Linked DNA regions of Homo sapiens. The protein of the gene in region 1 interacts with the protein of each later gene in a biochemical or structural test. Each region holds a gene or a part of one and is shown in the gene's direction. Other genes may lie near its edges. The genes, in order: RNF19A and CGAS.

Region 1 (16,163 bases):
GTTTAGGCTACAGAGTGAGTTTGTGATATAATCAGATAATTGATGCCTAAAAATATGCATGTTTTGCATTAATTTACTATTAAACTGACTTAAGGGTATGAGGGTAATGGAAGACTAGGGATAAATTTTTAACCTGAATTTCAGTTATCAGTATCTTGTTAATATAATATAGATTAAATAATAAAATATAATATAAAATAAGATATATCAATATCTTGTTAATATAATTTATAGTGGTTCTTACCTTAGTTTAATGAACTCAGAATTTAAAGGGGAAAAAAGCTCCTAACTATGAGAAGTTTTTAAAAATAGTCATTGTTTTAATATAGTGCACTAATTTGTTATTGTGGTGTTTTGCAGCAGTTATTTACATTATAATTTTTTCCGTTAGTCCATCAGGATGTACTTTTTGGGGGAAGAAACCCTGGAGCCGAAAGAAGAAAATATTGTGGCAACTGGGAACACTGGTTGGTGCTCCTGTCGGAATCGCTTTAATAGCTGGCATTGCTATTCCTGCAATGATTATTGGCATTCCTGTGTATGTGGGCCGCAAGGTAAAATGCATACTTCTTGTTAGTCCATTATCTTATTCTAAATCTTTAGGTGTATTCTTTTAGTATTGATGATTTTTGGGTTTTTTTTTTTTTTTTTTTTTAGACAAAGGGTATCTTTAGTTTCTTCAGTATAAAACAGTTACTCTTTTTTCATAAATTTTTAGTGTTTGGCAAGCATATATAAATACGTATAAAGCAGACTTGCTTTAAAATGTTCTGAATCTGAAAATTTTAGTATGTTTGTATTATAAAACTTTGAGTATAAAATATTGAAGGATACACACCTGAGATTTTTCTCATAGGTATATCCTTGTAAGGTCAGGTCTATGAGATCTTTTTAATGAAAGTTAATAGCTAAATAACACATGCCCTCAGGCAAAGAATAATTAGCCAGTTCTTGAATTATTTCTGCTGTAGTTCAAAGCTTTTTTTTTGGATTACTGCTTTTAATAAATACACTATTTTGCAAATTATAACAATCTTGTGAAAGTCCAAACACCAGTGACTACCACTGGCCTCTAATTGATGAATTATATTTCATTAGCTAAGCAAATAGTTCTTTTGTTAAGGGTTAATGGGATAATTTATGAGGTCCTAAGAAGTCTGTTGTTGCCTAAATTAATAGAATCTCTGGATTGAGAAGTAACTTTCAGTAGAATATAGCTAAAAGAAAAAAAAAAGAAATTTTCTTTGGTATCCAAGAAGATCAAAAAAATTAAAACTTTTTTTAAAAAATAAAAAGAAATTAATCCCAACCTTGTACCCAAGCAGAACAAAGGATAGCAATTTTCAAAAAGGGAACTAACAGGCCAGGTGCGGTGCCTCACCCCTGTAATCTTAGCACTTTGGAAGGCTGAGGCTGGTGGATCATCTGAGGTCAGGAGTTCAAGACCAGCCTGGCCAACATGGTGAAACCCCATCTCTACTAAAAATACAGAAAAAATTAGCCAGGCATGGTGGCAGGTGCCTGTAATCCCAGACTCGGGAGGCTGAAGCAGGAGAATCACTTGAACCTGGGAGGTGGAGGTTGCGGTGAGCTGAGATTGCACCATTGCACTCCATCCTAGGCAACAAGAGCAAAACTCCATCTCAAAAAAAAAAAAAAAGAACTAACAAGCTGGGCATGGTGGCTTACTCCTGTCATCGTAGCACTTTGGGAGGCTGAGGCAGAAGGATCACTTGAGGCTGGGAGTTCAAGACCAGCCTGGACAACATAGTGAGACCCCATCTCTCAAAAAAATTTAAAAATTATCTGGGTATGGTAGTATGCACCTGTAGTCCCAGCTACTTGGGAGGCTGAGGTGGGAGGATTGCTTGAGATGGGCAAGTGGAGGCTGCAGTGAGCTGTGATTGTGCCACTTCACTCCAGCCTGGGTGATAGAGCAAGATCCTATCTCTAAAATAAAAAAAGGATCTAAAGGTTGTCATACTGTGTCATAGGTGTTGTATGTACTTTTACTTATTTTAACCCTGCAGCAACCTCGATATTTCGGTCTCTGTGTGTTAAAATATTGAGATTTAGGAAAGTTTATGTAATATATCTTCAGTTACACACAAAGAAGCAGAGCTGAGATTTGAACTCAGATGCATGAATTCTTAATATAAGTTCCATGATTAAGTTTCAGTAGCTATTTGGGAACTCAGTCATGGGGAAACCACCAACTCATGAAGCAATCCATTCTGTTGTAAAATGGCTACTAATTGTTACAAAATTGTTACGTTTGAGTCAGATCTGTTTCCTTTTGTTTCCTTTATTTCTGTTTCTAACTTCTGGGACCCGACTGGGAATAAGGTTGATCTTCTTCTGTAAAACAGCTGAATTTTTTATATTCAACATACATTTTATAATCAGAAAAATAATATATACTATTTCTTAAAAATTAGTTTTGGGGCTGATGACAAACATATTTATAAGTCACATATTTATTTCTGAAGGTTTTAAGTGAGTAAACCTGGACTTTAAAAAATGTTGGGCCATGTGTGGTGGCTCATGCCTGTAATCCTAACACTTGGGGAGGGTGAGGAGGGAGGATTGCATTAATCCAGGAGTTTGAGACCAGCCTGGGCAACACAGTGTGACACCTTGTCTCTACAAAAAACTAAATAATCAGCTGGGAGTGGTGGTGCATGCCTGTAGCCCCCGCTATTAAGGAAGCTGGGATGGGAGGATTGATTGAGCCCGTGAGGTTGAGGCTACAGTGAGCTGTGATCGTGCCACTGCACTCTAGTCTGAGCGACACAGAGAGACCCTATTTCCAAAAAAGAGAGAAAAAATAAAAAATTTCAAAATATATTAGCTGATCGTAATTTTTCATGTAGTTATTCAAAGCAAGGCTTTGCTGAAAACAAAACTATTCAGATACTTAGAAGGGAAAGAGAGACTGTTGTACCACATGTACCTATAAATCATTTATAGAGAAGAGATTATTTACCTCATTGTTCAGGTCATAGGGTACAGTTACAGATCTCCTTTTTTCAAACATGTACCCAAAGGGTTGTAAATGAATGAATTAGTTTTCCATTGAAATAATATTCTGTGGTGCTTTGGGATCCCAACCAGCCTAGGAAAACCTGCTAAGTCAATAAAGTACCCAAAAGCTGAGCCTTCACTTAACAATAAAAAGTAGAGAATGTGGCAAAAAATAGTAAACAGAAAAATTAAGTTGAACCAGAAATAGTGGGATAATGTGATCACTAATCAAACATTGGTGCTTGAGGCTGAAAAATTTTCTAGAAGACTCCTTTCTCTTGGCAGCCTGCCTTTGCAAGTCTGCTCCATCAGTTGTGCCTTTTCTCTTCTTCAGTGCTAAGTTTCCCAGGAATGGGAGTGGGGAGGAGCAGGAATTAGCTGCAGTGCTGAAGGATAATGAAAGGTACCTTGGGAAGGTCTACCATCTCTGCCTGCATGGACTGTGTAGGGAAGTGAGGAGGCTCATTGACAAGGAACCTCTAGTCAATGCTGGGAAATGGGATTCTGACTAGGAAATAGAAAGGTTTCTTGTCCCATACATGCATCACCCACCTCCCACCCCAACCTTTCTACTGTTTTCCACAACACTCATCGTACTTTACAGCCTTCCAAAGGCCAAAGGTGTTATTATACCATGTAATAATAGATTATTTTATAAGTCCCATCTGTAGTATTGTTTATAAGTCATTTTATTTTAGAGAGTCCCCATACTTTTGAGGCTGTTTTGAATTTGTTTTGGAACAGAGGGGGAAAATGTGCCATATTAGCCCTTGCAAACCATGAAAATAAAGATCTCAAAGTTCATATAATTTCACAAGCCAGTTTTTAATCACCGCTTCTATGATGATATCAAATTCTACTTATTAACACCTGTCCTGTACAGAGATTGCTGAGTGAATTCAATCCTGTCTTCTGGTAGCCATTATTTATCATCTTTTTTCTTTCTCTGCCATTTACTTTGAGCTATAAATGAGAGCCCTGGAATTTGAGTCATTTGTCAATATTGTCTTCATAAAAAGGATCTGAGAAAAAAATAATACTGTTTATTCATACTTGTTTATTAGAACTGCTTTTTAAGGTCAATTTTTAAAAAGAAACCTTCCCTAGAAGCCAATTTTTACCATTTAGAGAATATTCTTTAGAAAGAAACCTTTAGAATGCTGGAAGTATCCTGTTGGTGAACCATGTAACTCATAACTGTGTTGAAAATAATAATCTTAATTTCTTCCTCTTTGCTCGATACATAATTACACTACTTTTGATTAAGATTATAAAGATGACTTTTACTCAGAACTTTTAAGCACAAAGTAAAATCCATTAAATCACTGTCTTAAGCAAATTAATAAGGAGCAAATTATTTGTGAGAATATATAATAGTTTAAGGACACTAGTAGGTTTACCTTGAACTAAGATACTCAGCTACGAACTTCTATGAAAAATCACTTTAGCAAGTATAGATCTTTTTCAACTAAGTTAAATTGTAATGTATTTTCTCTTTAATCCCCCACCCCTATTTTTATTAATTCAAGATTCACAATCGCTATGAAGGCAAGGATGTTTCAAAGCACAAACGGAATTTGGCCATAGCAGGTGGTGTAACGTTGTCTGTAATCGTGTCTCCAGTAGTAGCTGCAGTGACTGTAGGTAAGAAAATGCTGAAAAGTACTAATTACCTACAATTTTATGGAGTTAAAGTTTTGTGGAAGGATTTTTTTTAATTGTTTTTTAATTTGAGGACAATTTAAATTGAGCCTGCAGTAAGTCTTGGTTGAAAGTATTACAGATTCAAGAGCCTAGCCTTAAAGTAGTTGGTAAATTGTTAGTGGCTGATACCCTTCCTCCCCACTCCACCCCAAGTACAGTTCGGAGGCCTGGCACTTCAAAAGAAAAAAGTTTGCATCTCTCTCTTTTTCCCCTTATGTGCATTACCTGAAAGGCTGGGAACCTTGAATTTGCTTAACAACTGGGTAAATCTACTTTTGGCAAATGTTCCAGCCAACTCTTCAGAACCCTGGCGCTTTTCTCTGTATGACTCTCTTGAAAAGACTTTCTAAAACTCATGTTTCTGTGAGTTATTTTGTTGTTGTTGTTTGTAATGACTGATTTAATTTCTCTTTAGGTATCGGTGTTCCTATTATGTTAGCTTATGTCTATGGCGTAGTTCCAATTTCTCTTTGTCGAAGCGGAGGTTGTGGAGTCTCAGCAGGCAATGGAAAAGGAGTTAGGATTGAATTTGATGATGAAAATGATATAAATGTTGGTGGAACTAACACAGCTGTAGGTAAGTCCTTTAAGCAAAGGAAGAAAATGTGCTTATTAACAGTGTAAGTAGTGGGGAGGCCAGAGATAACATGCAACTCAGAATTTCCATTGCCATCCTTTTACTAGGCCTAATAGTATTCATTCAGAAGTACATAAGTGAATAAACTGCCAAGGAGGAGTGTATGGATGAAAGAGGTGGGGGTAATTCTGGGTATCTGACCTCTAATTGGAATATAATGTCTTAGAAATCATAAACTTTTCATCTTAAATTTTGCCTGAAACATTATAAATAACTAAGTAAAGGATATGAAGAGGAATACAGTTAATAAAAGAAATACGGATGACCAATAATACAAAAATATCTTCAACTCAATGTTATTCAAAGAAATGTGAATTAGAACAGTAACGAGCAAAGATTAAGAAGAATAAAAAAGCCTTCATAGACTGCCTATAGGAGTATGTCAATAAACCTTTTTTAAAAAGTGCATGTTCTATATTCTAGCAATTCTTGTTTTAGAAATTTGTCATAGGGAAATAATTAGGCAGATGTGTAAAGATAATGCCTACTTTCTTACCTCTTATTTTCTCTTGAACTGGCCTCAATCAGATTTTTGTCCCTACCACTCCAGAATTTTATTTCTGCTATTCACTGAAGCAGAGTCACCAGTGGCCTCCACGTAACCTAATACAGTGGTCAGGTCTTGGTCCTCATCTTAACAGTATATCCGACATGGTAGAGACTCTACCCTTCTTGAAATACTTCACTTTTCTTATGGGAAACCACTTCTTACCATATTTCCTGGCCAGTCCGTCTCATTAATCTTTGCTGGTTCATTTTCCTCTTCTGACCTCTAAATGTTTGTTCCCCAGAGCTCAGTTCTCAGAATTCTTATGTATCTACACTTTTCCCCTAATCTCATCTATTAAATAATGCATAGACCGACCTCTCCCCTGAACTTCAAACTTGCATGTGTAACTTTCCTCTTTAATCTGCACTTGAGTGTCTAACAAGAATTTCAAGCTTAACTTGTCTACAGCCAAATTCTTGGCTCTAAAATCTCTTCTTCCCTTCATCCTCCTTAACTCAATAAGTAGCTTCTCCATTCCTCCTGTTGCTTGGGCCAAAAACCTTCACTTAACAATGCCTCCCTCTTTTCCCTCTTGTCCTACATCTGATTGATCTGTCAGCAAATTCTGCTGCTTCCTTCAATATTTAGCCATAATCCAGCCACTTCTTACTCTCTTCGTTGTCCTTCCCTTAGTCCAAGCTACCATCCTCTTTCCTGGGCTATTGTAATAGCCTCTTAACTGCTGTATCAACTTCTCAGCTTCTATTCACTAGTCCATAGTGCAGCCATAGTCACATGTCTAAACCCTGTCAGATTATAACTTTCTTATGCTCAAAACTTCCCCAGTGGCTTCTAACTGTACTGGGGAAGAAAATCCAAAGTCCTTATCATAGCCCAAAAGGCCCCACATGATCTGCCCCAACTATGTCTCTGAGCTCATCTCTTGTCACCCTCTTATTTTATACCACTCTTGCTTGATTTTTGAGGGTGCCAAGCATTATCCTACTTCTAGGCTTTTAAACTGGCAGTTCTCTGTCTGGAATACTCTTTCCCTAGAAAATTTCATGACTCACTGTTTTACTTCATTTGTCTCTACAAGTATTACCTTATCAAAGAGGCCTTCTGTCATCACATCATATAAAATGGCTCACAGACATGTACGTACATGCACTTTTCATCACTCTCCTCCCCTTTACTCTCTTGTATTTTTCCTCATAGCATTTGTCACCGTGTGATTGGGTATATAATAGGAACTCAAATATTGGTGCAAATAAGTGACTCCTTAATACAAAATGTGTGAGAGGTACTGTAAAATTGGAACATAGTGTTATCAGATCTTAATAATAGCTTGTAGACAGAACTGTGGCATATATCTAGAAATCAACTTTTAGCCTATTCTTACTGACCTAGAGAATAATAAGCTCTTTAAATGACACCCTTAATGAAAACTGTCACATAATTTTCCTCTAAAGTCAGCGATATTTTTTAACAATCATATTCTTTATAGAATTCCTAAATCTGGGTTTTTGAAAAAAGAAACTAGTGACCATTTAAAATTGTTGGCTCTATTCCCACTGCTTCTAGTGGACTAGCCTGAAAAAAATATTTTTCCATGTCTGCGTATATTTTATACCTTATATAATGTCCTCTCTGAAATCATGGAGGAATTTAAGAAGGAGAAAATTGATAATCATACTTACTTAGTTTCTTTGGAATATTTGCATTTAGACACAACATCAGTAGCAGAAGCAAGACACAACCCAAGCATAGGGGAGGGAAGTGTTGGTGGGCTGACTGGCAGTTTGAGTGCAAGTGGAAGCCACATGGATCGAATAGGAGCCATCCGAGACAACCTGAGTGAAACGGCCAGCACCATGGCACTAGCTGGAGCCAGTATAACGGGGAGTCTGTCAGGAAGTGCCATGGTAAACTGTTTTAACAGGTGTGTGTTTTGGTTTGGTTTGGTTCTGCTTTCTGGTAACTACAAATTATTAATTAGGTGAGAATTTTGAACATAAAGCATGATGATTATATATAACCCTACTATGTCAAGGTTCAAAATAGTAATGTTAAAAATGAAATTTGGGGCCAGGTGCAGTGGCTCACGCCTGTAATCCCAGCATGTTGGGAAGCCAAAGCAGGTGGATTGCCTGAGCTCAGGAGTTCGAGACCAGCCTGGGCAACATGGCGAAACCCCATCTCTACTAAAAAAATATAAAAAATTAGCCGGATTTGGTGGCATGCACCTGTAGTCCCAGCTGGTCGGGAGGCTGAGGTAGGAGGATCACTTGAGCCTGGGAGTTGGAGGCTGCAGTCAGCCAAGATCACACCACTGAGCTCCAACCTGAGTGACAGTGAGACCCTGTCTCAAAAAAAAAAAGAAAAATTTGGTGGTAGATTTCTAAGTCTAAGGAATAACATTCTGCCAATTTTTTCACTGTCCTTGTCACATTTTATATTATAAATCGTTGCTACAGCTGCTTCAGTAGACATTGAAGCAAAGGCAGTACTTAAGCCTAGATCTTACCTCTGTGGGTAACAACAGCCAGATATTAGGAGATGGGACTTTGGCTGAGTCCTGGGAAACAGGTGGAGTCAGGACATCCAGGAATGTGTGAACTGGGACCGGGATAATCGGCTAGGGTCCTTTTATGTATTAATGCTTGCTTACTTTGTTCTCACCAAGTCTTTTATCAATAGCCATATAGATAAGTAGGAAAAATTATCTTCCCCTGTTTCTCTTTAATTCACTATTTTTCACTTAGGCTTATTAGCCTTGCTTTTTTTAAGTGTAGGGGAGAATACATGAATTAAAAGATAAATTAGACATCTTATTTTTAGGTAGTTTGCCTTTTAAATACAAACTCTTAAGTTATAGTGGTATATACTACCTCTTTTTAAAAAGGCAAATGTTGGTTGGGCTCAGTGGCTCATACCTATAATCCCAGCACTTTGGGAGGCCAGGTTGGGAGGATAGCTTGAGGCCAGGAATTTGAGACCAGCCTGGGCAACATAACGAGACCCTGTCTCTAAAAATATATATAAATAAATAAAGTATTAAAAGGCAGGTGTTATTTATAGAGTCATTTTTTAATATAGATGCCCAGGATTTTTGGATTCATTGGTGTGTCATGTTTAATGATTAATAATGTATTCTAACTTTGTGTTTTGCATTGAAACATTACAAAGTGCCATATGCTGAGTGAGAATAATGGAGTACATTTAAGTGAAAATCCTTTGTGTCTTTTTTGTGTTATTTCATTACCACTTTACTTGGCAGACAGCTGATGTTCCCCATTTTATTTGGATGGCTGGTACTATGCAGTGTGCTGCAGTAGAATTTAAATTAAATAAAAGGAAATAAAAAATAATGGTTCCTAAAATAGCTTCTGGTTACTAGGGTTCTTAACTGAATTATTTAAAGATACATATTACAGTAGTGCTGATATTAAATATAATTTTGGTGATTTCATACCCCCCTTTAAGGTTGGAAGTACAAGCAGATGTACAGAAAGAACGGTACAGTCTAAGTGGAGAATCTGGCACAGTCAGCTTGGGAACAGTTAGTGATAATGCCAGCACCAAAGCAATGGCAGGATCCATTCTGAATTCCTACATCCCATTGGACAAGTAAGGAAAAAACTGTTAAAAAATTGAAAGTATTTTTTAAATTAAAGGAATAATTCCTATCATTAGACAAATTACCAGTGAAAAGTGGCTACCAACTATTAAGTTCTCTGAGAAAAGGAAACAGTGAGCTGTCCAGAGTAGGCAAATCTGTATAGATCATAAAGTGGATTTGTGGTTGTCAAGGGCTGGGAAAGGGAAGAATGGTAACTAACTGCTAATGGATGCAAGATCCCTTTTTGGGATCATGAAAATGTTCTGAAGTTAGGTAGTGGTGATGGTTGCACAGCTCTGATCACAACTAAAAATCACTGAATTGTACACTTTAAACAGGGGAATTGTATCTGAATAAAGCTGTTCTTTAAAAAAAGGTAGCATAGTGTCTAGAACAGCATAAGCAATAAATGTGTCCACCACTATTTTAAAACATTGAAGCATTATAAAGAGTTCTGTTATATCAAGTATGTTTTTTAAGTAGAACGTGTTCTGCGTTAAGGTGTTCTCATAGCTTATATATAGTCTGAATTTTCCACATAGAAACCCTTCCCCCAGTCATCTGAACAAAAAGAAGTCAGCAATTATGTTTGTATTTGTTACTCTTATATTTCAGAGAAGGCAACAGTATGGAGGTGCAAGTAGATATTGAGTCAAAGCCATCCAAATTCAGGCACAACAGTGGAAGCAGTAGTGTGGATGATGGCAGTGCCACCCGAAGTCATGCTGGCGGTTCATCCAGTGGCTTGCCTGAAGGTAAATCTAGTGCCACCAAGTGGTCCAAAGAAGCAACAGCAGGGAAAAAATCAAAAAGTGGTAAACTGAGGAAAAAGGGTAACATGAAGATAAATGAGACGAGAGAGGACATGGATGCACAGTTGTTAGAACAACAAAGCACGAACTCAAGTGAATTTGAGGCTCCATCCCTCAGTGACAGTATGCCTTCTGTAGCAGATTCTCACTCTAGTCATTTTTCTGAATTTAGTTGTTCTGACCTAGAAAGCATGAAAACTTCTTGTAGTCATGGTTCCAGTGATTATCACACCCGCTTTGCTACTGTTAACATTCTTCCTGAGGTAGAAAATGACCGTCTGGAAAATTCCCCACATCAGTGTAGCATTTCTGTGGTTACCCAAACTGCTTCCTGTTCAGAAGTTTCACAGTTGAATCATATTGCTGAAGAACATGGTAACAATGGAATAAAACCTAATGTTGATTTATATTTTGGCGATGCACTAAAAGAAACAAATAACAACCACTCACATCAGACAATGGAATTAAAAGTTGCAATTCAGACTGAAATTTAGGCCCATAAATGCTGCAGAATAATTACCACTGTACAACCGTGTTTGGAGCTGGTTGAACTACATGTGACTACTTAAGTTTCAGGTTACCAGCAAAAGCCGGGTTTCATTATCATAATGCAGATACATTTTCTGTGTTCAGCAAGGCATTGTGTGTCATGTGGATCTTAGTTACCAAACTATGAAGTGAAGGCTTTAAAAGTGCATTATTTTAAGGATAATAAATTTGAAGAGCAAAGCATGTTTTGTGTGTTTGCCACAAAACATTGCTTGAAGCACATACTTAGATAGAAATTGGTCTTAATTTATATAATCAATATAAAATACTAATGCAATTCTACAGCATTCAAATGAAGAAAACTTGAGGCTTTAGGGATAAGTGGTTAGTGATATTTTATTGAAACCACTAAAGAGATAAGTTTAAAAGAACTGCATAGGTTACTCTCAGTATATGATACTCTGTAACATTTCTATTTATATCGGCATAAATTTCATTTTTTTTCTTCATATGCAATGTGGTTATATAAAGCTTAATGCAGCTCATTTGCTACCATTTGGATACTTAGACACTTTGAGCAAGATTGTGGCAGTTTTTGCACAACTTTGAAATAGAAATACCTGGTACTCTATCTTGTTTATTGTTGATGCCATCTTAGAGGAAAAAATGTAAAGGTAAGTAATTAAGCATATGACAGCAACAAATAAGATACATAAAACTACAAAATAAAGTCCCATTAGGTTATAAGTATTACAAAAAATCCACCTTTCTCTAAGGGGAAGTTTGTACCCCATTGATTCTTGGTGCCTTTGGGATCGACTGGGTTTTAATGGCCTAGTTATTTGAGGATTTTGCTGTGTTGTTTTCCATGTCTTCTCTGGTCACCTTGGATTATATATAAAAATACAGGAAATAGATAAACATGAATGTGATTAATAATGCTGAAAAAGTATTAGCCTACCAAAGACACACTCAGGCTTTAGTGAATAACTTTACATAACCTCAGTTTTTAACACATGCATATCTTCTCCAACCATGAAATCAAAGCACGGTGCAGAACTTGTACCAAGTACAAAAGGTCCATGTATGATTAGCATTATTTTCTTTTGCTTTTGTTTATGGACAATGTTCAGCTGACATAAGCAGAAGTTGGCCAAAATACTGCCTGTACTGTTAATTTCCTGTATAATTCACTTAAATAAAAGCAGGTTAACCTCAATGATAGCAGTTAAAATGTTCTATCTTATGTATTTCTTTTAAGTATTACCATTATGGTGCTACTGAGCGTTTTCTTTTGGTAAAAAGAAAAATGCCATGGGCTGCAGTCTTCTTCCATCACTTTTCCCTACCAGGTCCATTAATATGCTTATAACACTAGTGCCAGTTATTTTATTTGATAATGCTTATGGTATTTGTATATTTGTTTGCATTCCAATTTTGTTTAATAATGAGTGTGTAAACTGCATACGTTAAATAAATGTAAATACTAATGTACTGCTGCCTTCTGGTGTGTACACAAGTGTTTTTTTTTAATAAGAATGAGAATATTCATTGGCCATGTGGTAGTATTCATAAATATTGCAAGCCATTGTGATTATTCTGCCTTCTGGTCTCAGCTCAAGGGGAAGCATTTGCTGAACTTTTCAACAGTGTTAGAAACTACCCTTTTTTCCTGTCTAATTCCTGCCTTTCCACCAGAAAAAAAGATACTGTATACATCAACATAATTTTTTTGAGTAAATTGGTTGAATTTAACTTGAGTAAATATATGTATCATTAAATTGTGAAGAGAAATCAGTATTATAAATCCTCAGAAAAGTGGAAAGATCAGCTAACTTGGGAAAAGGGGAAAAAAGTAAAAAGATCTTAAAAGACTATTTTAAGAGATTCTATTCTAGCAACATTAGATTATGAAATGAGCCATTTAAATTCAAGCTAATTGTAATCAGATGCTTTCTATTCTTGTAGCTTCTGTAAAATGCATAGATGGTTTTTCTGTTTCCCTGGTATATAGTTAATGCTTCATGAAAATAATCTTTTTTTTTTTTTGAGATGGAGTCTCACTTTGTAGCCCAAGCCTCGAGTGCAGTGGTGCGATCTCAGCTCACTGCAACCTCCGCCTCCTGGGCTCAAGCAGTTCTCGTGCCTCAGCCTCCCAAGTAGCTGGGATTACAGGCAAACATCACCACGCCCGGCTAATTTTTTTGTGTGTTTTAGTAGAGACGAGGTTTCGCCATGTTGCCCAGGGTGGTCACAAACTCCTGAGCTCAAGTGATCCACCCACCTCGGCCTCCCAAAGTCCTGGGATTACTGGCGTGAACCACCATGCTCGGCCAAAATAATCTTATGAATATGTTGACTGCCTTGTTGACATTTCTTTAAAAGGCTAAAGATGAAATGGAAAGCTAAATGATCTTCAGAGGAATACAGCAAAAATAGTGCCCTATAGGAGGCTGGTGCATTCATTCACCCTACACCTACTTCTGGTGATACTCCCAACCAGTACCACTTCAGTCTCACCTTAAAACTAGCTTCAAAAATTCCTTGTCTCCTGGACCTTTCAACTAGCTTCAGAAATTCCTTGTCTCCTGTATCCTTCAAAGTTGGATTAATTTAGGACCAAGCCAGTTTTCCCTGGAACTCAACTCTGGGCTAGCCTTGAACAAGAGATACCTCCAGGGTATTCAAAATAAACCTTAACTCACTGAAATCTTGTTAAAACTCTTTGTACTTTAAAGCCTGTTGGAAAAATCATCTGGTAATGAGAGAAAAGAAATACAAAGATTATAATAGTATATCCTACTGTTGATTATGTAGACCACCAATTTAACTGGTAGATTCACTTCATTGTACAAATTCCCAGCTTCAGAGCACTTAATTAGTTAGCTTTTTATATTAAATGCACATAATCCACCACTCCTAACTTATTTTTCCTGGAAATTGTGTTAATTTGTAAACATGTAAGACTTTCCCTAGCCTGTTATTTAGGTAAACATATAGACAAATCACCAAAGGATAAAGTATGTGTTGAAAACTATCGGAGCTATTAATTGCTACATGACATGAGCAAAAGAAACTCCTGCTCCATAGATTGTTTTGCCTTTCCATTCACAGTCATCACGCTTCTTACAGATTCTAGTCTGTACTTGGATCTAAGGAAAAAAATTCTTTTCTCAAGGCTGCATTTCATATGGTTCCTTTTAATGGATTTGTTGTTTCATTTATTTCCTTCACTAGAGCATGAGATATCATTGCTTAACAGCCAGTGTTTACATACTGGTTGATTTTTGAATGCCAAAAATAGTATTCTAAACTTGGGGAGAGTTATGTTATTTAGGGTGGCTATTATTTAATAGCTGGATATGAAAAAGTTTGCAGTTTTAAAATTTAGTTCAGATTGGATCACTGTACATCATATGCTAGTCAGAATTTTTGTGACTTCTACCAATTTATTCGTTCAACAAAGTAGATGCTGGAAATACAGCATAGTACCAAATAAACAAACACCCTGGCTTCAGAGGGCTTGTATTAGAATTTGGAGGATACAAAAATAATAAACATATGCATGTAGCTTAAAATAATGGAACGAGATGTAAAATAACCAGATGATGATTGCTATGAAAAATTAGAGGTGGGCACAATAAGAGTGACTGGGATTTTGGGGAAGCAGTACTGTTTTATACAGGGCAGAACAGGAAAAGTCTCTAGAAGACATTTGTCCCAAGATCTAAAGGAAATGAAGGAACCATGTAAAAACATACCTGGTGAATGAGCATTTTCAGAAACATCTCCAAGGTGAGTTAGTGGACAATTTAGACATCAGTCTTGGAATCTGAATTTGCTATCTAATAGGGCAAGTCTGCCACTGTTTTTTCCTTGGATGGTGTCTTGACTGTCCTTGGCACTTTATATTTCCATAAACATATTAGAATAACCTTGTTGTGTTTCACTAATTTTGATTGGGATTACATTGAATCTATAATTATCCCCATAGAATTCTTTTACATCTTTTGTTAAATTTCATTCCCAGGTACTTGATATTTTTTATCCTATAATGTATATTTTTAAAATGTCATTTTCTTTCTTTCTTTTTGAGAAAGAGTTTCATTCTTGTTGCCCAGACTGGAGTGCAGTGGTGCGATCTCAGCTCACTGCAACCTCTGCCTCCTGGGTTCAAGTGTTTCTCCTGCCTCAGCCTCCTGAGTAGCTGGGATTACAGGTGTCCCACCACCACGCCCAGCTAATTTCTTGTATTTTTAGTAGAGAAGGGGTTTCGTTATGTTAGCCAGGCTGGTCTCAAACTCCTGACCTCCAGTGATCCACCTGCTTCGGCCTCCCAAAGTGCTGGGATTACAGGCATAAGTCACCACGCCCAGCCTCATTTTCTGTTTGTAACTAATAGTATAGAGAAATGCCATTGATTTTGTATTAACAATTTTGTATCTGGTGAATCTTACTCTTTTAATTCCAATGGTTTATCTCCAGATTCTTTGGGATATCACTGTACAATTATCACTTGTGAATGTTTGTATTAAACACTTTTACAGTGCTTTGAAGTGTGAAATACTTTCCGAGCACTTTTAAAATAGTAACTTATGGAAAAGCAAACAATAAAAGAAAAATATAACTTATCAAGTTTACTTATATAACAAACCTGCACATGTACCCCTGAACTTTAAAGTTAAATTAAAAAGTAATATTAGGTTTACCTTGAACAGTGAATAGGGGTCATATAATTTAGAAAGATGCAAAAGGTAATTGTATATCAAATTATATACTAAAGTCTTAATTATCATTAGAGTTGGTTCAAAATAAAATACTTATTCCTCAGAACAACTCTGTGAAGGAGGTATTACTATCTTCATTACAGATGGGGGTAACTGAGGCACAGAGATATTAAGTAATTTGCCTGGAGTTGCACAGCTGCTAAGTGGTAGAGGTGGGATTCCCATTGTTTTGGTTTTTTTCTCTTAGATCATTGCATCATTTATTTATTTTTCTGGCCTTTTGCACTGGCTGGGACTTCTAGTGTATACTTCTGAATAGCGGTGGTTATAGGGGGCATTGTTGATTTGTTGATAACCTCAAAGGGAAACCTTTCATCATTTCAGCTATTATTTGCCACAGATATATTTATAGGATATCCTTTATTGAATTTTGTAAATTATCTTCTAACTCCTAGTTTGCCAAGAGTTTTTACCTTTGAAAATACGTTGAATTTTATTGGCTGCTTATTTGGTGGGGGGAGCATCTGCCATATAATTGTGATTAACATGTTAATGTAGTGAATTTGATTCTTCAAATGTTAACCTGGGGCAAACTTCAGTGATCAGAGTATGTAAGATTGGAATGATGTCTTCCTTGAATGTTTGGTAGAAATTGCTA
Region 2 (6,865 bases), on another chromosome or scaffold:
CAATATTATTCAGCCCTAAAACGGAAGGAAATTCTTGCAACATAGATGAACATTGGCTAAGAGTGATAAGCCAGTAACAAAAAGACAAACGTTGCATCATTTCACTGACATAAAGTACTTAGAGCAGTCAAAATCACAGTCAGAAAGTATAATGGTGGTTGCCAGGGGCTAGAGAGAGGAGAGAAAGATGAGTTATTGTTTATGGGTACAGAGTTTCAGTTTTGCAAGATGAAGAGTTTTGAAGACAGATGATAGTGATGGTTGCATAGGAATGTGAACATACTTAATATCATTGAATTATACACCCCCCAAAAATGGTTCAAATAGTACAAAGAAAAAAAAAGTAGTCAAGGCTTTCTAAACCCAAGAGGTTCTTGTCTAATATGCATTTCTTTTATTATTATTATTTTTTTTTTTTAGACAGAGTCTCATTCTGTTGCCCAGGCTGGAGTGCAGTGGCAGGATCTCACTCACTGCAACCTCTGCCTCCTGGGTTCAAGCTATTCTCCTGCCTCAGCCTCCCGAGTAACTGGGATCACAGACATGTGCCATCACACCCGGCTAATTTTTTGTATTTTTAGTAGAGACAAAGTTTCATCATGTAGGCCAGGCTGGTCTTGAACTCCTGATCTCAGAAGATCTAGGGCTCCTGAAGTGCTGGGATTATAGGCATGAGCCACTGCGCCTGACCTCTAATATGCATTTCTATCAGGGGCTTTAGAAATAGATACTTGAAGGCCAGGCAAGGTGGCTCACGCCTGTAATCCCAACACTTTGGGAGGCCAAAGGGGGCAGATCACCTGAGGTCAGGAGTTCGAGACCAGCCTGGTCAACATGGTGAAACCCCGTCTCTACTAAAAAGGTAAAAAAATTAGCTGGGTGTGGTGGCAGGCGCCTATAATCCCAGCTACTCAGGAGGTTGAGGCAGGAGAATCGCTTGAACCCAGGAGGCGGAGGTTACAGAGAGCCGAGATAGCACCATTGCACTCCAGCCTGGACAACAAAAGTGAAACTCCATCTCGAAAAAAAAAAAAAGATATTTGAAAGCCTGTATTGAGATACTCTAGAATCACAACAGCTGAAGCAGTATGAATGATTTAAAATGTAAATGCCAGGTCCGGTGCAGTGGCTCATGCCAGTAACAGCACTTTGGGAGGCTGAGGCGGGCAGATAGCTTGTTGGGGACCAGCCTGGGCAACATGGTGAAACCACATTTCTACAAAACCATACAAAAATTAGCTGGGCATGGTGGGGCACGCCTGTAGTCCCAGCTGCGCAAGAGGCTGAGTCACGAGAATCTCTTGAACCCGGGAGGCGGAGGGTGTGGTGAGCTGAGATTGTACCATTGCACTCCAGCCTGGGCAACAAGAGCAAAACTCCGTCTCAAAAATGAATAAAATAAAATAAAATAAAAAGAGAGAACTTTACACAACTTTTTTTCCCCCTGAGACAGAGTCATTTGCCCTGTCGCCCAGGATGGAGTGCAGTGGTCTGATCTCAGCTCATTACCACCTCCGCTTTCCCGATTCAAGCAATTCTCCCGTCTCAGCCTCCCCAGTAGCTGGGTTTACAAGCATGGCCCACCACACCTGGCTAATTTTTGTATTTTTAGTAGAGATGGGTTTTCACCATGCTGGACAGGCTGGTCTTGAACTCCTGACCTCAAGTGATCCACCCACCTTCGCCTTCCAAAGTGCCGGGATTATAGGCGTGAGTCACCGCACCAGGCAGAAACTTTACACAACATTTTAAAGATTTTCTGTGCTTTTTAAAAAATGTCAAATAGAAGTATTTACTCCAATTGCAGTCAATCTTTGTTTCATTCCATCTTGTAAAAGTTGAATATTTTCTCTTTCTTATTTTTTTCTTTTTTCAAAGTATTTTTCATTTGTTATTAATTTTTTTCTTTTTAAAAATTATTATTTTATTTCTTATTGATTTTTAAAAAACCCTATTTAAATTTACATTGAAAAAGTTGGCCGGGCGCTGAGGCTCATGCCCGTAATCCCAACAGTTTGGGAGGCCGAGGCAGGTGGATCACGAGATAAGGAGTCCCAGACCAGCCTGGCCAATATGGTGAAACTCCTTTCTACTAAAAATACAAAAATTAGCCGGGCATGGCGGCGCACACCTGTAGTCCCAGCTACTTCGGAGGCTGAGGCAGGAGAATCGCTTGAATCCGGGAGGCAGAGGTTACAGTGAGCCGAGATCGTGCCACTGCACTCCAGCCTAGGGGACAGAATGAGACTCCATCTCAGGAAAAAAAAAAAAAAAAAGGGAAAAGTTTCTGGCCAGGCGCCGTGGCTCACGCCTGTAATCGCAGCACTTTGGGAGGCCGAGGCGGGTGGATCACTTGAGGTCAGCAGTTTGAGAGCAGCCTGGCCAACATAGCGAAACCCCGTCTCTACTAAAAATACGAAAAATTAGCCGGGCGTGGTGGCGGGCGTCTGTAATCCCAGCTACCCGGGAGGCTGAGGTAGGAGAATTGCTTGAACCCAGGAGGCAGAGGTTGCAGTGAGCCAAGATCGCACCATTGCACTTCGGCCTGGGTGACAAGAGCGAAATTCTGTCTCAAAAAAAAAAAAAAAAAAAAAGAAAGAAAGAAAGAAAAGAAAAAGAAAAAAAAGAAAAGAAAAAGTTTCTGTGGCAGGGCACAGTGGCTCATGCCTACAATCCCAACACTTTGGGAGGTTGAGGAGGGAGAATCGCTTGAGTCTAGGAGTTCGAGACCAGCCTGGGCAACATAGTGAGACCTCCCCATGTATACAAAAAAATTAAAAAGAAAAGAAAAAGCTGGGCATGGTGTCCGCACCTGTAGTAACAGCTACTCAGGATGCTGAGGTGGGAGGATCGCTTGAGCCCTGGTGGCTGAGGTTGCAGTGAGCCGAGATTGCGCCCCCCTAACTCAAACCAAAATTAAATTTAAAAAAACTTTCACTTGAAAGAGAAAAGTTTCTCTGTCAATGTTTTTGTTTTGTTTTGTTTTGTTTTGTGATGGACTCTTTTTCTGTTGCCCAGGCTGGAGTGCAGTGGCGCGATCTCGGCTCACTGCAACCTCTGCCTCCCGGGTTCAAGCAGTTCTCTGTCTCGGCCTCCCGAGTAGATGGGACTACAGGCGCCACCAAGCCCGGCTAATTTTTTGTATTTTTAGTAGAGACGGGGTTTCACCATGTTGGCCAGGAAGGTCTCGATGTCTTGGCCTCGTGATCCGCCCGCCTCGGCCTCCCAAACTGCTGAGATTACAGGCGTGAGCCACCACGCCTGGCCTCTTTTTCTTTTTTGAGACAGAGTCTCGCTCTGTCGCCCAGGCTGGAGTGAAGTGGCACGTCTCAGCTCACTGCAACCTCCGCCTCCCGGGTTCAAGTGATTCTCCAGCCTCAGCCTCCCGAGTAGCTGGGATTACAGGTGCCCGCCACCACGCCTAGCTAATATTTGTATTTTTTAGTAGAGACGGGGTTTCTTTCGCCTTGTTGGCCAGGCTGGTCTTGAACTCCTGACCTCAGGTGATCCGCCCACCTCGGTCTCCCAGATTGCTGGGATTACAGGCGTGAGTCAGTGTGCCCAGGCAACACACACACACACATATATTTAATTATAAGAAAGACCAGGTCTTGCTGGGTTGCCCAGGCTGGTCTCAAACTCCTGAGCTCAAGCGACCCGCCTGCCTCGGCCTCTCGGATGCTGAGGTTACAGGCGTGAGCCACCGCGCCCGGCCCTACCTCATCTTCTTAAGACAGGGGCACGGATTGCCTGGAGAGTTAGAAACTTCGAGACTTTTGTAGCCTCAGGAAAGGCCGCGGCCAGCCTCTTCGCGGCATGGGCGTGGCTCCCAGCGACTTCCCAGCCTGGGGTTCCCCTTCGGGTCGCAGACTCTTGTGTGCCCGCCAGTAGTGCTTGGTTTCCAACAGCTGCTGCTGGCTCTTCCTCTTGCGGCCTTTTCCTGAAACGGATTCTTCTTTCGGGGAACAGAAAGCGCCAGCCATGCAGCCTTGGCACGGAAAGGCCATGCAGAGAGCTTCCGAGGCCGGAGCCACTGCCCCCAAGGCTTCCGCACGGAATGCCAGGGGCGCCCCGATGGATCCCACCGAGTCTCCGGCTGCCCCCGAGGCCGCCCTGCCTAAGGCGGGAAAGTTCGGCCCCGCCAGGAAGTCGGGATCCCGGCAGAAAAAGAGCGCCCCGGACACCCAGGAGAGGCCGCCCGTCCGCGCAACTGGGGCCCGCGCCAAAAAGGCCCCTCAGCGCGCCCAGGACACGCAGCCGTCTGACGCCACCAGCGCCCCTGGGGCAGAGGGGCTGGAGCCTCCTGCGGCTCGGGAGCCGGCTCTTTCCAGGGCTGGTTCTTGCCGCCAGAGGGGCGCGCGCTGCTCCACGAAGCCAAGACCTCCGCCCGGGCCCTGGGACGTGCCCAGCCCCGGCCTGCCGGTCTCGGCCCCCATTCTCGTACGGAGGGATGCGGCGCCTGGGGCCTCGAAGCTCCGGGCGGTTTTGGAGAAGTTGAAGCTCAGCCGCGATGATATCTCCACGGCGGCGGGGATGGTGAAAGGGGTTGTGGACCACCTGCTGCTCAGACTGAAGTGCGACTCCGCGTTCAGAGGCGTCGGGCTGCTGAACACCGGGAGCTACTATGAGCACGTGAAGGTGAGCTGCTTGGCGCCCTCCCGCCGAGCCCCGCTGCTCGGCCTTCCGCAATCCGCAGTCCCTACCTTCCCCGGGTCGCGCCCCTCACTTCCCTTCGGAAGTAACTTAGACTTTTGCATGTTTTTCGGTAGCCTAGTCTAAGTAAAACGACAAACCGTTCGTTTATTCATCTACACATCCAACGATCAGACAACCAACCGGTACTGATTGCTGGCTAATTTCAAGACACTGCTCCCGGGGGAATTCAAATGTATGGGTTCATTCATGCAAGCCGACATGTATCGAGTTTCCGTAACAGGGCAGTGTTTGATGGTGTGGACCTGAGGTCCCGAGTCAGATATTGACTTGGATAATTTGAAGTGGTCTGTTAAAAATTCCACGTAGACTTTTTCCTATGAGGAAGACCTCTTACTCCATAGAAAAAAAGATCTTCAGTTTCTCTCCCCCTCTTCCTCCCTGCCCCCTCTCCTGCTATCCCGTCTGACCCCAATTTCTTTTTTTTCTTTTTTCTTTTCTTTTCTTTTTTTTTTTTTTTGAGGCGGAGTCTCGCTGCGTCCCCCAGGCTGGAGTGCAGTGGCGCTATCTCGGCTCACTGCAAGCTCCGCCTCCCGGGTTCACGCCATTCTCCTGCCTCAGCTTCCCGAGTAGCTGGGACTACAGGCGCCCGCCACCATGCCCGGCTAATTTTTTTTGTATTTTTAGTAGAGACGGTGTTTCACCGTGTTAGCCAGGATGGTCTCGATCTCCTGACCTCTTGATTCGCTCGTCTCGGCCTCTCAAAGTGCTGGGATTACAGGCGTGAGCTACCGCGCCCGGCCGTCTGTCCCCAGTTTCTTACACAGAAATCATGGGAAGCTTACAGTATAATGTTAAACAAACAAATAAGAATATCTCCTACAGATACTAAAACGCTTTCTAGATACACATTCCGTATAATTGCTTCGACGTGTGTATTACACAGCTCCATTTGCTTGTGGGTGATTGAGTCATTAATCATTCCTGTGTAAATTGAAAGTTTAGAAGCAGGTTCCTGACTGGAGCGTGTTTCTTGCCCAGCAAGAGATTTGTTTCTTTTTCTTTTTCTTTCTTTCTTTCTTTTTTTTTTTTTTGAGACGGAGTTTCGCTCTTGTTACCCAGGCTGGAGTGCAATGGCGCGATCTCAGCTCACCTCAACCTCCACCTCCCAGGTTCAAGCGATTCTCCTGTCTCAGCCTCCTGAGTAGATGGGATTACAAGCATGAGCCTCCACCCTGGCTAATTTTGTATTTTTAGTAGAGACGGGCTTTCTCCATGTTGGTCAGGCTGGTCTAGAACTCCCGACCTCAGGTGATCTGCCAGCCTCAGCCTCCCAAAGTGCTGGGATTACAGGCGTGAGCCACCACACCCGGCTTCTTTTCTCTTCTTTTTTCTCTTCTCTTCTCTTCTCTCTATCTCTCTGTCTCTCTCTTTTCCTCCCTCCCTCTCTTCCTCTCTCTCTCTCTCTCTTTATTTTGTTCTTTCTTTCTTTTCTTTCTTCTTTCTTCTTTTTTTGATGGAGTTTCACTCTTGTTGCCCAGGCTGTAGTGCAGTGGTGCCATCTAGGTTTCGCTGCAACCTCCGGCTTCCAGGTTCAAGCGATTCTCCTGCTTCAGCCTTCCAAATAGCAGGGATTACAGGTGCCTGCCCCCACTCCCGGCTAATTTATGTATTTTTAGTAGAGACGGGGTTTCACCATGTTGGCCAGGCTGGTCTCGAACTCTGACCTCAGATGATCCACCTGCCTCGGCCTCCCTAAGTGCTGGGATTACAGGCTTGAGCCACGGCACCCAGCCCAGACTGTGTCTTGAGCATGATTCTTTTTAATTAACTAATTTACTTTTCAGCATCAGATATGTCTCTGATTGAGCATGATTCTTATTATGTAAGTATCAATTCAGTTCAATTACTGTATATGGCGGGTCCAAAGGAAAAAGAAAGTTACTAGTTAGAATTAGAGAACAAGACATTCAGAAGACAGTCTCCATTCAGAACCACTTTGTGTGTGTGTGTGTGTGTGTGTGTGTGTGTGTTTGAGACAGAGTCTCACTCTGTCACCCAGGCTGGAGTGCAGTGGCGCGATCTCGGCTCACTGCAAGCCCTGCCTACTGGGTTCACACCATTCTCCTGCCTCAGCCTCCCAAGTAGCTGGGACTACAGGCGCCCGCCACCATGCCCAGCTAATTTTTGTATTTTTAGTAGAGACGGGGTT

What was found.
Region 2: the proteins of RNF19A (region 1) and CGAS form a complex in vitro, tested with the Homo sapiens proteins (one study listed by BioGRID).

The regions. Positions count from the first base shown.
Region 1 is NC_000008.11:100,253,176-100,269,338, reverse strand, and holds the end of RNF19A (E3 ubiquitin-protein ligase RNF19A), read left to right. Parts: intron 1-391; coding exon 392-554; intron 555-4,553; coding exon 4,554-4,668; intron 4,669-5,143; coding exon 5,144-5,305; intron 5,306-7,583; coding exon 7,584-7,797; intron 7,798-9,341; coding exon 9,342-9,485; intron 9,486-10,092; coding exon 10,093-10,783; 3' UTR 10,784-12,272; downstream 12,273-16,163. UniProt on the Homo sapiens protein: E3 ubiquitin-protein ligase which accepts ubiquitin from E2 ubiquitin-conjugating enzymes UBE2L3 and UBE2L6 in the form of a thioester and then directly transfers the ubiquitin to targeted substrates, such as SNCAIP or CASR.
Region 2 is NC_000006.12:73,449,298-73,456,162, reverse strand, and holds the start of CGAS (cyclic GMP-AMP synthase), read left to right. Parts: upstream 1-3,865; 5' UTR 3,866-3,981; coding exon 3,982-4,638; intron 4,639-6,865. UniProt on the Homo sapiens protein: Nucleotidyltransferase that catalyzes the formation of cyclic GMP-AMP (2',3'-cGAMP) from ATP and GTP and plays a key role in innate immunity.